Linked DNA regions of Homo sapiens: all the other regions are linked to region 1. The links come from fine-mapping of genetic effects on gene expression. A gene starts in region 1. Each other region holds a variant in brackets. All regions are shown on one strand. Distances are between the middles of the regions.

The links. PIP is the estimated chance that this variant, and not a neighbour inherited with it, causes the effect. A credible set is the group of variants that fine-mapping cannot tell apart.
Region 2: its variant is the best candidate, but not a certain one, in a credible set for the expression of ASTL in minor salivary gland (GTEx, PIP 0.65).
Region 3: its variant is the best candidate, but not a certain one, in a credible set for the expression of ASTL in minor salivary gland (GTEx, PIP 0.86).

The regions. Positions count from the first base shown.
Region 1 is chr2:96,136,438-96,140,636 of GRCh38, reverse strand. It overlaps ASTL (astacin like metalloendopeptidase), which reads left to right and starts at 2,135. Exons shown (of 9, transcript NM_001002036.4): 1 at 2,135-2,255; 2 at 2,937-3,062. The coding sequence starts at 2,201. RefSeq lists a silencer at 1,231-1,320 and an enhancer at 2,211-2,280.
Region 2 is chr2:96,090,550-96,094,748 of GRCh38, reverse strand. No RefSeq gene overlaps it. Among named protein-coding and RNA genes, the nearest start is that of ADRA2B, 24 kb to the left of the region's middle. RefSeq lists an enhancer at 1,993-2,508. The variant G/A (reference allele first, on the strand shown) is at 2,393.
Region 3 is chr2:96,344,732-96,348,930 of GRCh38, reverse strand. All of the region lies in intron 6 of NCAPH (non-SMC condensin I complex subunit H), which reads right to left. Among named protein-coding and RNA genes, the nearest start is that of NCAPH, 11 kb to the right of the region's middle. The variant C/T (reference allele first, on the strand shown) is at 2,361.

The sequences.
Region 1 (4,199 bases):
CTTTTTCATCTTGCGAACCTGAAATCCTATACCTATTAAATGATAACTCCCCTCCCCAGTCCCCAGCCCCTTGTGAGCTCCGTTCCACTTTCCGTCCCTGTGCACTGGGCTACTCTAGACACCTCTTGGAGGTAGAAGCATGCAGGATTTGTCTTTTTGTGACTGGCTTGTTTCGCTCAGCAAAATATCCTCAGACCAACTGCATGTCCTAATAAAGACTCTGTTTCTCTCCCCAAGCAGGGTGATTATTTCTTATCATTATTTTAATTCTTTTGTTTTTTGAGACAGAGTCTCACTCTGTTGCCCAGGCTGGAGTGCAGTGGCACAATCTTGGCTCACTGCAACCTCTGCCTCCTGAGTTCAAGGGATTTCTGGCTAATTTTTGTATTTTTAGTAGAGATGGGGTTTCACCGTGTTGGCTAGGCTGGTCTCGAACTCCTGACCTCAAGTAATCTGCCTGCCTTGGCCTCCCAAAATGCTGGGATTACAGGCATGAGCCACTGCGCCCGGTCTACTTTATTTTTTTTTACTGAACATTCATCTTTTTTTTTGAGATGGAGTCTCACTCTGTCCCCCGGGCTAGAGTGCAGTGGCGCGATTTTGGCTCATTGCAAACTCCACCTCTGGGTTCAAGTGATTCACCTGCCTCAGCCTCCCGAGTAGGTGGGATTACAGGTGCCCGCCACCGTGCCCAGCTAATTTTTGTATTCTTTTAGTAGAGATGGGGTTTCACCATGGTGGCCAGTCTGGTCTTGAATTCCTGACCTCGTGATCCACCTGCCTTGGCCTCCCAAAGTGCTGGGATTATAGGCGTGAGCCACCGCGCCCTCCTGAACACTCATCTTAAGTGGTCAGCCTTGTGCATTTGTTTTTTGATGGGTCCTATTCTTTATTTTACTTATTTTTTCTAGGTTTACTGAGGCATAATCGACAAATAAAAGTAGTATATGTTTAAGTATACAACGTGATGTTTTGACATATGCATACCTTGTGAAATGATGACCACAACAAGCTAACTAGCATATCCATGGTGTGTATCCTGACATCTGTCAATACCCTGCCCTGGCAGCAGGGCGTCTGCCTCCATCATGGTCTCCCTGTGATTCTGATTCCTATCTTTGGAGAAGCTCTGGATTCCAGGCACAGTGGGAATGCTGAAAGGTCCTTGTGGACAATAGCTATTCTTCTTGGCTCTGTCGCTTCCCTTCACTGGGTGCAGGTGACTGTGGGGGTGTCCCCAAATGCTGCCCAGCGCTGACATGCTCCGCCTCTGGGATTTCAATCCAGGTGGGGCCCTGAGTGACCTGGCTCTGGGGCTCAGGGGTATGGAGGAGGGGGGATATAGGTAAGGAGTTTAAATTTCCAAATCTGTGAAATGGGAATAAATACTGACTGATCATGCCAGCTGCTGTGGGATTAGGGGGTGGACTCCCTGCGAGGCTCTGGGCATCTGGGGGTTCCACCTTTCCCACATGGCAGGCTTTCTAGGGTGCTGCACACTGTTCAGTTTGTGAAATTTCCTGGAGCCCTGTGCTTGTGATAGTGAACTTTTCTATATGTGTACTAAAATAAAAGCTTGTGAAAGTGCAGTGACCTTTTCCTCCTTCCGGAGATACACGGGGGGCGCCCCAGGGTCTCAGGCAGCTTTCCCCATGTCTAAGCACAGGCCGGGGTAGGAAAGGGGGTCTCCCTCGCTGGAGGAATAGGTCTATACCTGGGCTGGGGCCTCAGCTAGGCCTGGAGCAACTTTCTGCGATGTTTCTCTGCCCCCTGGAGGCAGGAAGGAACCTCAGAAGAGCCACACTCCCAAGCGGGCCCCTCCTGTCTTTCACCTGCTACAGCCAGGAAGGGGACTGGGCTGGGGTGGGAACCACAGGTAGGCATCGGAGGGGCTGCCAGTAGACCTGGTTTGGGTGGCGCTGCCGGTAGAGCTGGTTGGGGCGGGGCTGCAGGTGGAGCTGGTTGGGGCGGGGCTGCAGGTGGAGGTGGTTGGGGCGGGGCTGCAGGTGGAGATGGTTGGGGCGGGGCTGCAGGTGGAGGTGGTTGGGGCGGGGCTGCAGGTGGAGGCGGTTGAGGGGAGCAAGGTGGGAGGTGGAGCAGCTGCTATTTAAGAGGGGGTGGTGGTGCCGGTTCTGCAATTAGGTTACTGTGTCTTGCTGGGGCTTGGTCTTGTTTGCTGAAGGGGCAGCAGGGCTCTACCATGGAGGGTGTAGGGGGTCTCTGGCCTTGGGTGCTGGGTCTGCTCTCCTTGCCAGGTAAGCTGGCTGCCTGTCCCTCCTGCTGCTGGCTCCAGCCTGGAGAAAGCTGGGGAGAGGCTAGAAGGTTGTGGCTGGAGCCTGCAGGGATTGTAGCTGAGCTCAGTAGCTCAGAGCACAGAGCTCTCCAGGGTTATTCTAGAAGTCAGCTCCTGGGGGGCCAAGGGGAGGCCTCCTGAAGGCCCTGGAAGCAGAGGGCCTGCCTGGCAGAAGATAAGTGTTGTGCCCCAGGCCTACTTGTCTTGGGGTGGGGGTAGGCTGTAAGTCCCCACTCCAGCCTGGTCAGGCAGGGAGTCATCCAGGCTGAGCCCATTGTCCAAGAGCCTGGGCTGAGAGAGAGTCATAAGGTGGGGTCTGAGGCTGGCCCTGCCCGTCACGGGCGTCAGAACCCGAGGTCTGTCCTGCCTCCTTCCTTCCTGCCCCTCCTCTACCTCATAGGTGGGGCACATGGTCCCTTTTGGTCCCCCTAAGGGAGCTCCTTCCCTGAGGTCATCTAGACCTTGGCACCAGTTGGGGTTGAGCAGGGAGGCTGGGAAGGCTCCTTGGCTTTGTGCTGGAGCCTACTCTTCCTAGGGACTGAGTCTTACCGTCTGATCCCCCACACCCACCCCATGTCCTGCTGTCTGGTCTCACCGGTGGGTGCTCCAGGCATCTGTGTATGCCCCTGTCTGTCTGGACCAGGTGTGATCCTAGGAGCGCCCCTGGCCTCCAGCTGCGCAGGAGCCTGTGGTACCAGCTTCCCAGATGGCCTCACCCCTGAGGGAACCCAGGCCTCCGGGGACAAGGACATTCCTGCAATTAACCAAGGTGAGGGCACTACATCTTCTCACGGCCTGGAGGGGCACGACGTTATGTAGTGTGAAAACCACACCGAACACTCAGAAATGCAGAGCCTGGGAGGAAATGGACCAGCTTACTCTGGGCTCTAAGTGGTTTTTAAGAGATGGAGTGGTGTTGCTATATTGCCCCGGCTGGTCTTGAACTCCTGGCCTTAAGTGATCTTCCTGCCTCTGCCTCCCGAGCAGCTGGGACTACAGGTGTGAATGGGTGGAAATTCTATGGGCAATTGCTTAAGTCTACTCTTTCTTTTTGTATCTTTCTTAGTGGATTGTTACTTTTATAAGAAAAACCAAGCTCTTAAAGGGCCTGGGCGTGGAGCTAAGCGGTTAGTCGCAGTCTGAGATTGTCAGCCACCCTGTGCAGGACTGTCTGCAGGTGTGATTAAGAAGTCTGAAGCTCAGCTGGGTGCGGTGGCTCTCGCCTGTAGTCCCAGCACTTTGGGAGGCTGAGGCGGGCAGATCATGAGGTCAGGAGATCGAGACCATCCTGGCTAACACAGTGAAACCCCGTCCCCACCAAAAATACAAAAATTAGCCGGGCGTGGTGGCGGGCGCCTGTAGTCCCAGCTACTCAGGAGGCTGAGGCAGGAGAATGGCATGAACCTGGGAGGCGGAGCTTGCAGTGAGCTGAGATTGCGCCACTGCACTCCAGCCTGGGCGACAGAGCATCTCACAAAAAACAAAAAACAAAAGTCAGGCTCAGGGCCTTGCTGTCTGGGGATGTCAGCTGAGGAATGAGGGTGTATAAATAGCCTGAACAAAGCCAGTTGAAATGGAGACTGGAGTTCAGATGTTGGAGCAATGAGGGCTGAAGCACTCAGGGTTGAAGCAATCGGGCTGAACAGGGGACAACCTTGCCCTAAGGGTGGGTGAGATCCTACCAGATGTGGTAGCCACTGTGTGATCTGCCCCCTTCTTCCTCTGTGAGCTGACTTGGGAGCCCAGCGCCAGCTGAGCCTTGAGCCCCAGGCACCATCCCACCCCTGGATCACCGTGAGTGGTCTGCAGGTAACCAGAACCAATGGAGAAAACTCCCAAATGCTGGTGACCCCAACAACTATCCTATCACCTACGGTGAGGCTGTCTCATAAGGGCTGCCCGTGCC
Region 2 (4,199 bases), 46 kb after region 1:
GTGATGTTAAACATCTTTTCATGTGCTGTTTGGCCATTCATATATTGTCTTTGGAGAAATGCCTATTCAGGTCCTTTGCCCAGTTTTTCAGTTGGGTTCTTTGTCTTTTTGTTATTGAGTTGAAAGAGTTCTTTATGTATTCTGGATACTAGATCCTTATCAGGTGTGTAAGTATTTGATTTTCAAATACTTTCTCCCATTCTGTAGGTTGTCTTTTGACTTTCTTGATGGTATTCTTTGAGGAACAAGTTTTTAGTTATGATGAATTCTAATTACCTATTTTTTCTTTTGTTGCTTACACTTTTGGTGTCATAGCTGAGAATTCATCACCAAATCCAAGGTCATGAATATTTACCCCTATATTTTCTTCCAAGGGTTTTATAGTTTAAGCACTTACTAAATGTAAGATCTCTGATCCATTTTGAGTTAATTCTTATAGATGGTGTGAAGTTGGGCTTCATTTTCATTATTTAGCATGTGGATATCCAGTTTTCCCAGTACCATTTATCAAAAAGACTATTCTTTTCTCATTGAATGTTCGGGCTGCTCTTGTTGAAAATCAATGGACTATAGACATATTGGGTTTATTTCTGGACTCTCAATTCTACTCCACTAGTCTATATGTCTATTTGCTGTTCCCTTTGCCTGGAATGTTCTCCCTTCAGTCTCATGTGGCTCCTTTCTATCATTGAGATCTTCTGGAAATGTCTCCTTAGAGAGGCCTCCCATTGTCACTCTCTGCCACATGACCTTGTTTTATTTTCCCCATAATTCTAATCGTGTTTGAATTCATATACCCTCTGAGAACAGAGTCTTCTGTCCTAGTTACTTGGTGTAAGCCTCCTCCTGTACGTAACAGGCACTTAAATATCATCAAATGAACAGTCAGTGTTCTCGAGCCTGGAACGCCTTTACCCTCCTTCTGCATGGTACCATCCAAAGGCCCCCTCCTCCCTGTGGCCTTTCCATTCATTCATGGTCAGCAGCACTGTTGGCCCCTTGCCTCTGTCGTGGTGAAGATTGGGCAAGTTGTCCTCCTGCATTTGAGTGGAAGCTCCCAGAGGGCAGGGCCCCCACTCTGTATCCCCACCTCTAGCCCACACCCTGTAGCTCATACAGAATGGGCCCTTGCCATGGACAGCCTCTGTTCCTGACCCTGGTCTGAATATGGAGTGAAGGGTGAAGGGGTGAAAGCAAATTTGAGTGAGGGGCTTAATCAAAGCGTGGTGGCCACTTAAGCCAAGAGACAAAGTTAAAGATTATTTCATAGCTTTTAGCCTCAGCATAGGGGAATGTCATTCTCAGGTCAGAAATGTGGAAGTTAAGTGGAGGATCTGGAGTGAAGACCAAGACAAGGAGTTCGGTTTTCCAGAAGCTGACTTAAAGGCTATGGCACAGTGGACAGAAGAAATGCCCCAAGGTGGCTGAGACTCTGGCAAGTCACAGTGGGAGCTCCCGGTTGCTGAGTGCCGGGTGTGGTGTAAACTGCCCAGCATGGGATCCTCAGAACCACCCTGAAAGTTTGGCTACACTAGCCCATTTACACAAGAGGAAACTGAATCCTTGAAAAGGGAAGCCACTTGCCCAGGGGCACACAGCCCATAAATGAGAGGCTGGACATGCAGACCCAGGCCTCTGACTCCAAAGGGTCCCTCTCCTCCCCTGTGCTGCCCCTAGAAAGGCCAGTGCTACAGGAGTTATTCCTGCCAGGGGCCTGCCCCAGACCTCTGCCCACAGGATGCCACCCTGTCAGCGAGAGAGGTGGGGCAAGGCCCAAATATGGAGGAGATGAAGCAACAGCTTTGGGCACATGCAGAAGCTGTTTGTGAAGGAATTAGAATATCAACAATTTTCACCTAGGCACTGGCTTGAAGCTGATACTTCATTGGATTACATGGCTGAGTGAGTAAAGATCCTTAACTAGGATCCTAAATACCATGAGCCTCCTTAGCCTTTCCCTCCTCTCCTGTCTTCTAAGCCTGTCCCAGCTGCCACCTTCCCCCGGCCGCCACAGAGCGCCTCTAGGGCTGACCTGCAGGTGAGCCTCCCAGCTGCCAGCTTCCCTCTTGCCCTTTGGGGATCCTTTCTGGCTTCTTCTGCCAGTAAAGGCGGGCATTGGTTTCCCACCATTCCTGGGGCACCAGGAAGGAAGAGTGTGTATGTGGGGCATGGTTATAATATCCTCAGCTCCAGGGACCCTGCAGTGGGAGGGAAGGGTGGAGGTCTGAAGATAGAGAGGAGGGCCAGGGCAGGAGGGAAGTGGCAGCAATTCCTGCGGGACACCCCTGTGAGTTCATGGACTGACTCTACCCCCTGTTGCTGTGCGACCTCAGGCAAGCTCCCTCCCCTTTCTGGGGGAGCCGGCCATCCTCTGTAGATTGGGGAGAGCACA[G/A]GGCTCACAAGGTTCATGAGACGAGGCAGGGTAGTGCAAGCCAAGCCTGAAAACAGGCATGTCCTGGGGGCCAGCTCTGGGGGGTGGGGTGGTTGTTGCAGGAGGCCTGTGATGGGAGGGAGGACGAGGACAGGGAGGAGCCAGCAGCTGCCATCAGGGTTGGGCACTGGGGAAATCCCACAGGGGCCACACCCATCTCCTTTTGCAAAGCCTGGAAGGGCCTGGAGGGGACAGAAGAGGGAGAGGTGTTGTTACCAGGCAGCATTGAGTGGGAATGGGTGCGAGGAGGTTTACAGGAGCCAGCGTGTAACTGCACACCAGGTGTTCCCATACGTCAGGAAACGCCTCTCCGCTCCAGCTAAGGAAGCCAAGATCCAGGGCCCGATTCCCTGCCTGCCTCACCAAGCTTCCCCTGGGGAGGGCACCACCCCCACCACCTGGCTCCTTTCACACTGCCCCGTGCGACCGACCCATGGCTCCAGGAGAGGGGGTTTAGAGTCAGGGACCAGCTCCTGGCAGTGGTTCTCAGAAGCTGCCAGCCTCCCAGCCTCTCAAATGGCCCTGCCGAGGTCTGCCCTCGGTCTCCTGTTCAAGCCCCTACCCTAACGAGGCTGCTGGGAGACGGTTTCCCTGCAGGGCACATGCAGTCTGGATGACTGGCTCCTTGCCGGGCCTGAGTGATGTCCCCGGCGCCTGCAATGAACCAAATGTGGTTATCCGTGCCTCTGCCCCTGCTGGCTCCCAGAAGCTGGCAATAGAATTATAGCCTCACGTCTGCCCTCCGCTGCCTTCCCCTCGGCCTTCCCCTCAGCTGCATTCTGGGGCGGAGCTGGGTGTCCTGCCTATTGTCCCTGTTGGGAAGGCATGGCTGAGGCTTGGGTGGCCAGGATTTCATGATGGGCTGGGAAGGAGGAGGATGAGCGCTGGAGCAGGGGTCCAGAGACTCAGCCTGGGGTCCCCAAGGGCTCTGGGCTGCTCACAAGAACTGCAGGCCTGGTCACCTCGCCCCTGCCTCCCCGACGCTCTCTCCTCGGCAGTCTTATCTCTCTGCAACCCAGGCTTGCCCAGGGCACTTCCCTCCTGAAAGCCTGTTGGTGGCTCCTGGCTGCCCACAGGACAAAGTCCAGGCGCCACCCCAGTTACTTGCCATTCCCCAGGGTGCCCAGTTCCTCCCTGGTGCATGAAGGGCAGTAGCCTCTGGCTAAGGACACAGGCCCAGGATCAGCTGCTCAGGGATGTACCATCCAGAGTCCCCTGACATCCTGGGTGTCCCCCTCTTCCTGGTGTCCCCCTCTTCCTGACCACCCTGAGACCACATTTCCCAGCCCCCTTGATCTAGGCATGAGTTGGGCCAATGGAAAGGGGGTGGAAGAGAGACGTACGCCACATCCACTTGGCCCATGAAAGTCTCCCAAGCAGGATCCTTTACTCAGTTTCCCTTTTGTTGCAAGCATGCAGGCCACAAGCTAAAGATGGTAGCACTAGAGAATAAATAGAGCCTGGGTCCCTGAATCACCACTTGGATTCACCCTAGACTGTGACATGAGCAAGAAATCAGCCTGTGCTCAGCTGCAGAGATCTGGGATTCTTTGTTCTAGCAGTTCGCTTACTCTGACTCACAAAAACCTTAGGAGTAACGGTGTGCAAGTGGTGTAACATGAGACCACTTTTCTCGTCTGTGAAATGAGATAATAATGCCTACGTTGAAAAATGTTGGGAAAGATGGACCATCAGGCACCTGGCCCTTAGTAAGCCCTCAGTACTTAAAGCTATTTTGCAATTTCTAGGCCTTTGCATGTCTCTTCCC
Region 3 (4,199 bases), 210 kb before region 1:
GCGTCTGTAATCCCAGCACTTTGGGAGCCCCAGTGGGTAGATCACTTGAGATCAGGAGTTCGAGACTAGCCTGGTCACCATGGTGAAACCCCATCTCTACTAAAAATACAAAAAAATTTAGCTGGGCGTGGTGGTGCGTCCCAGCTACATGGGAGGCTGAGGCACGAGAATCGTTTGAACCGGGGAGACAGAGGTTGCGGTGAGCCAACATCGTGCCACTGCACTCCAGCCTGGGCCACAGAGCGAGACCCTGTCTCAAAAAAAAATAATAATAATAATGACAGTAAGATAAATTCCAGATTATCTGGGAAGGGGAAAAAACAAGGAGAATTGGGGGAGGGAAGGGAACGTAGAAAGGGCTTTCTGGATCCCTATGACTAATAAATAATACCACTTCAGATGTGTGTAGCATATCACCATGTTTAAAGACCTTGACATAGGCCAGGTGCGGTGACTCACACCTGTAATCCCAGCACTTTGGGAGGCCGAGGCGGGCGGCGGATCACAAGGTCAGAAGATCAAGACCATCCTGGCTAACACGGTGAAACCCCGTCTCTCCTAAAAATACAAAAAATTAGCCGGGCATGGTGGCGGGTGCCTGTAGTCCCAGCTACTCTGGAGGCTGAGGCAGGAGAATGGCGTGAACCCGGGAGGTGGAGCTTGCAGTGAGCTGAGATAGCGCCACTGCACTCCAGCCTGGGCGACGGAGCAAGACTCCATCTCAAAAAAAAAAAAAAAAAGAGAGAGACCTTGGCATAAATGGATTCACTAATATAAAACCGAGATGTGGTTGGGGCCAGCGTTCCCCATTTTTTATAGTATATGACAGTGAGATTCACAACTCTTCCCAGGTCAACAGCTAAGCACCGCACCCGGCCTACGTCAAGGTCTTTAAACATGGTGATATGCTACACACATCACCCACGGTTAATGCTGACACACACATAAGGAAAAAATACAACTCCCTCTCCCCACAAGAGCCAGCTGCTCTCGCCTCTCCCCTCCCTCTTAGGCCTCATTCTCAGTGACTCTCCTTCCTCTGGCCCCTCCCTGCCCGTGCACAGCAATGCCCTGCTCACCTCACCACTCAGAGTGGGCATGGCAAGGCCCCACCTCCCTAGCCCCTTGCACACTCAGTCTTACCACTACCATCTGCTGTAAGAACACTGGCATTCATCTCACTGTTGCCCTTTATCTGGCTTATTTATTAATTACACAAAAAGACCCAAGACACCCACAATTCTACATTTCTTGGACTCTAAGATCTATAGAACTCTGATGCCACCTCCCACCCCACCACAGCCCCCATCTCCCACTCCTCCTCAAAAACTGGTATTTCCTCAGGGCCCTCTAGACTCAGTCATCAGCAAAATTCTCTCTATCGCCCACTTAGTTCCTGAGGATTATCTCCACCTACTTGTTCTAATTTATGTATTCTCAATGGTGTTCTCATTTCACTCTCAAGGGGTGAAAACTGTTTCCTAGAGGCTAGGTGGGAAAAATCTTAGATATTACAATAATGTTTGCCTATCCAAATCTCTACCCTATCTGACAAAATCTTATTCCTTAGTATTTCATTTTAAGGGGAAGGAGTAGGCACAAAATGTCTAAATGGGTCTGAAGGGGCAAAAGTGATAAAAAAAAAAAAAAAACAGGCTGAGGGGCACTGCTCCAATTGAGACATGGTGCCAGCCTGAGGATAGGCTTCCCCTGCGGGCCTCTGCAGTGGCTGCTTTCTCTTCACAGCCGTCAAACCAGTGGCCTACAGGTGGGCCAGGTGATTGCAGCATCCAACTATCCCCCCTCCCAATTTCTAATGCCCCAGCTCTGAGTACAACATCAGCTTTTGCCACTGTCTGCCCATCTGTGTTGCAGTCATCTTCCAATCCCCAGGTCACAACCTGTCCTTCTTCTCAGAAGATCTTAGTATTAGTTTATGGCTCATTACTAGTCTCCAAATTTATTCCTGGTGTAGCTCTTATTGATTTCAATATCCATATGTTGATCCATCCAGTACACTGTCTCTTGGTTGATATCCTCTCCTTCAATGGTCTCCATCCTAAGAAACCCAGGACTCCAAGACAGCCAAGTAAGACACCAAGACAGCCTAGTAAGACCCCTACCCCGCCTCCGCCATTTGCTCCCTTGCCTGCTCTGAGTTGACTCATTAACCATGACTGCAACCTCTCTATATCCTCAATTCTAGGGCCCCTCTCTGGCAACCACCTCCTACATTTCCAGCTCACCCCTTCTTGTCCCCAACACCACGAAGTCTTTGACCCCACCAGGCCTACAATCTACTGATTATATTACTTTCCACTGCCCTCATTCCCCTGTCTTCCGAGGTAAAATTCCCTAAG[C/T]AGTGAATGCAACCACACCTTTACACATGCACTCACCTCCTCCAGTGTCCCTTTCCAGCTGTGTCCATTCACTCAGCTCAACAGGATCCCATATTAAACCCAACTTTCTGCCTACTCCATGATTGTACCCACACAGCTATTCACGGCTGGACAGAGACACAAAATAATGCTGACTGACCTCACTTTATATCCATCTGCCACCACCCTCAAGTAGACCCTAAGTTGTCTAACAGTCACACCATATCTCCCTAGTTCATGTACTCGCCCACCTCCTAGAGGACTCTTTCCTACCCTTTCCCCTCCTCACGCCCCCAGTGCCTTCCTTCCCTATCCTCACTGTAAGCTGATGACCTGGCTTCCTGTTTTAAGACAGTATCCAGAAGGCTCCCCCATGAGTGCACCCAAACAACACCCGTCAGCCGAGCCCAACCTGTGCTGTCCATTCCCTACCTCTCACCTGCGCAAGGACATCAGCCTGGCAATTCTCCTTTCTGCTGCATCATCAATAATCCCTTCTCCAAACTAGACTGCTGTCATCAACAAAATATGCTGTCATTTCTCCCATTCAAAAACAAAATCAAAACTCTTGGCCTTACTTTTCCCTCCATTTGCTATCCCAGTACTCTGCTCCAAATTATAGCAAAACTCTTCAAAACAACTACCTATATTCAAGTGTTTTCAGTCCTTTCCTCCCATTTATCATAAAAAAAATTTCAGATCCACAAGAATGTTGAAACAGTAATACGAATCTCTGTAAAGCTTCTACTCAGATTACCCAATGGGTAGCATTTTGCATATTTGTTTTCATTTACTCTCTCTATATATATCTCTCTCCCCACCCCAGAGTCTTTTGTCAGTAATCCTCATGACACTTCACCATGTCCCAGTTACTAAGCTACTGCCTCTCAGCTCTAAGCCTACCCTCTCTCCTTGGCTGTGATGCAGGGTCTGGGACATTCAGCTTTGCCGGCAGCTCCCTGTTAGGGTTTACCAAGTAGGGGCACTAGAGGGAGACTACAGGCTCCAAGGGAGAGAAGGCACTGCTCCTTTCTGCAGGTTGCATGTTAGGAGAGCGTCACCCAGCAGTGTTCCACCCCGGCTGCAGCAGAGCCCACCTGTAGCAGCAGCTGAACCCCACTGGCAGATTTTCACACTCACAGAACCAGCCTTATTGAGACACCAGCACCAGCCAGCATGCCCCCGTTCCAGGGTCTGGGTCCTGGGCACACAATCCCCTCCCTCAAACTCAGGGACACTAGCACCAGCCAAGCCCTTCCCTGGAGGTCTGAGCTTGAGTTTCAGAGGGGCCCCCACTCCAAGCTCATTAGTGGCCTCAGGTTGCCACATTTGGCATGGTTGATCATTCCCCACTCCCTGAAATATTTTCTCATTTGGATACCACGCTCTTCTGGTTTTCCTCCTACCTACTGGATGTTTTTTCAGCTCTCTGAACTCCTAAGATTGGGGAAAAGGAACTCCCAGTCTTTTTCCCATATACATTCATTTCCTTGGTGACCAATTCTAGTTTTGTGACCTTAATTACCATTTATGAATGTTGTGGAGGTAAGAGAGAAAAGTAATCTAGTCTACTGCTAGTGGGAGAGTAAATTAGTACCTTTTTTTGAGGGCAACTTAAAATCCATGTCTCAGAATTTTCTTACAGATATTCTCCCATACGAGTGCAAAGATAATATGTATTAGAATGTTCACTGAAACAATGTTTTTAATGGCAGAATTAAAAAATAAAATTGTAGTAACACCTGTTTGCTTTAAATTAACTGTGCTAATTATAGATGAGGCCTCCAGTACCATTTGTTTAAGCCGATTCCTTAGGATTTG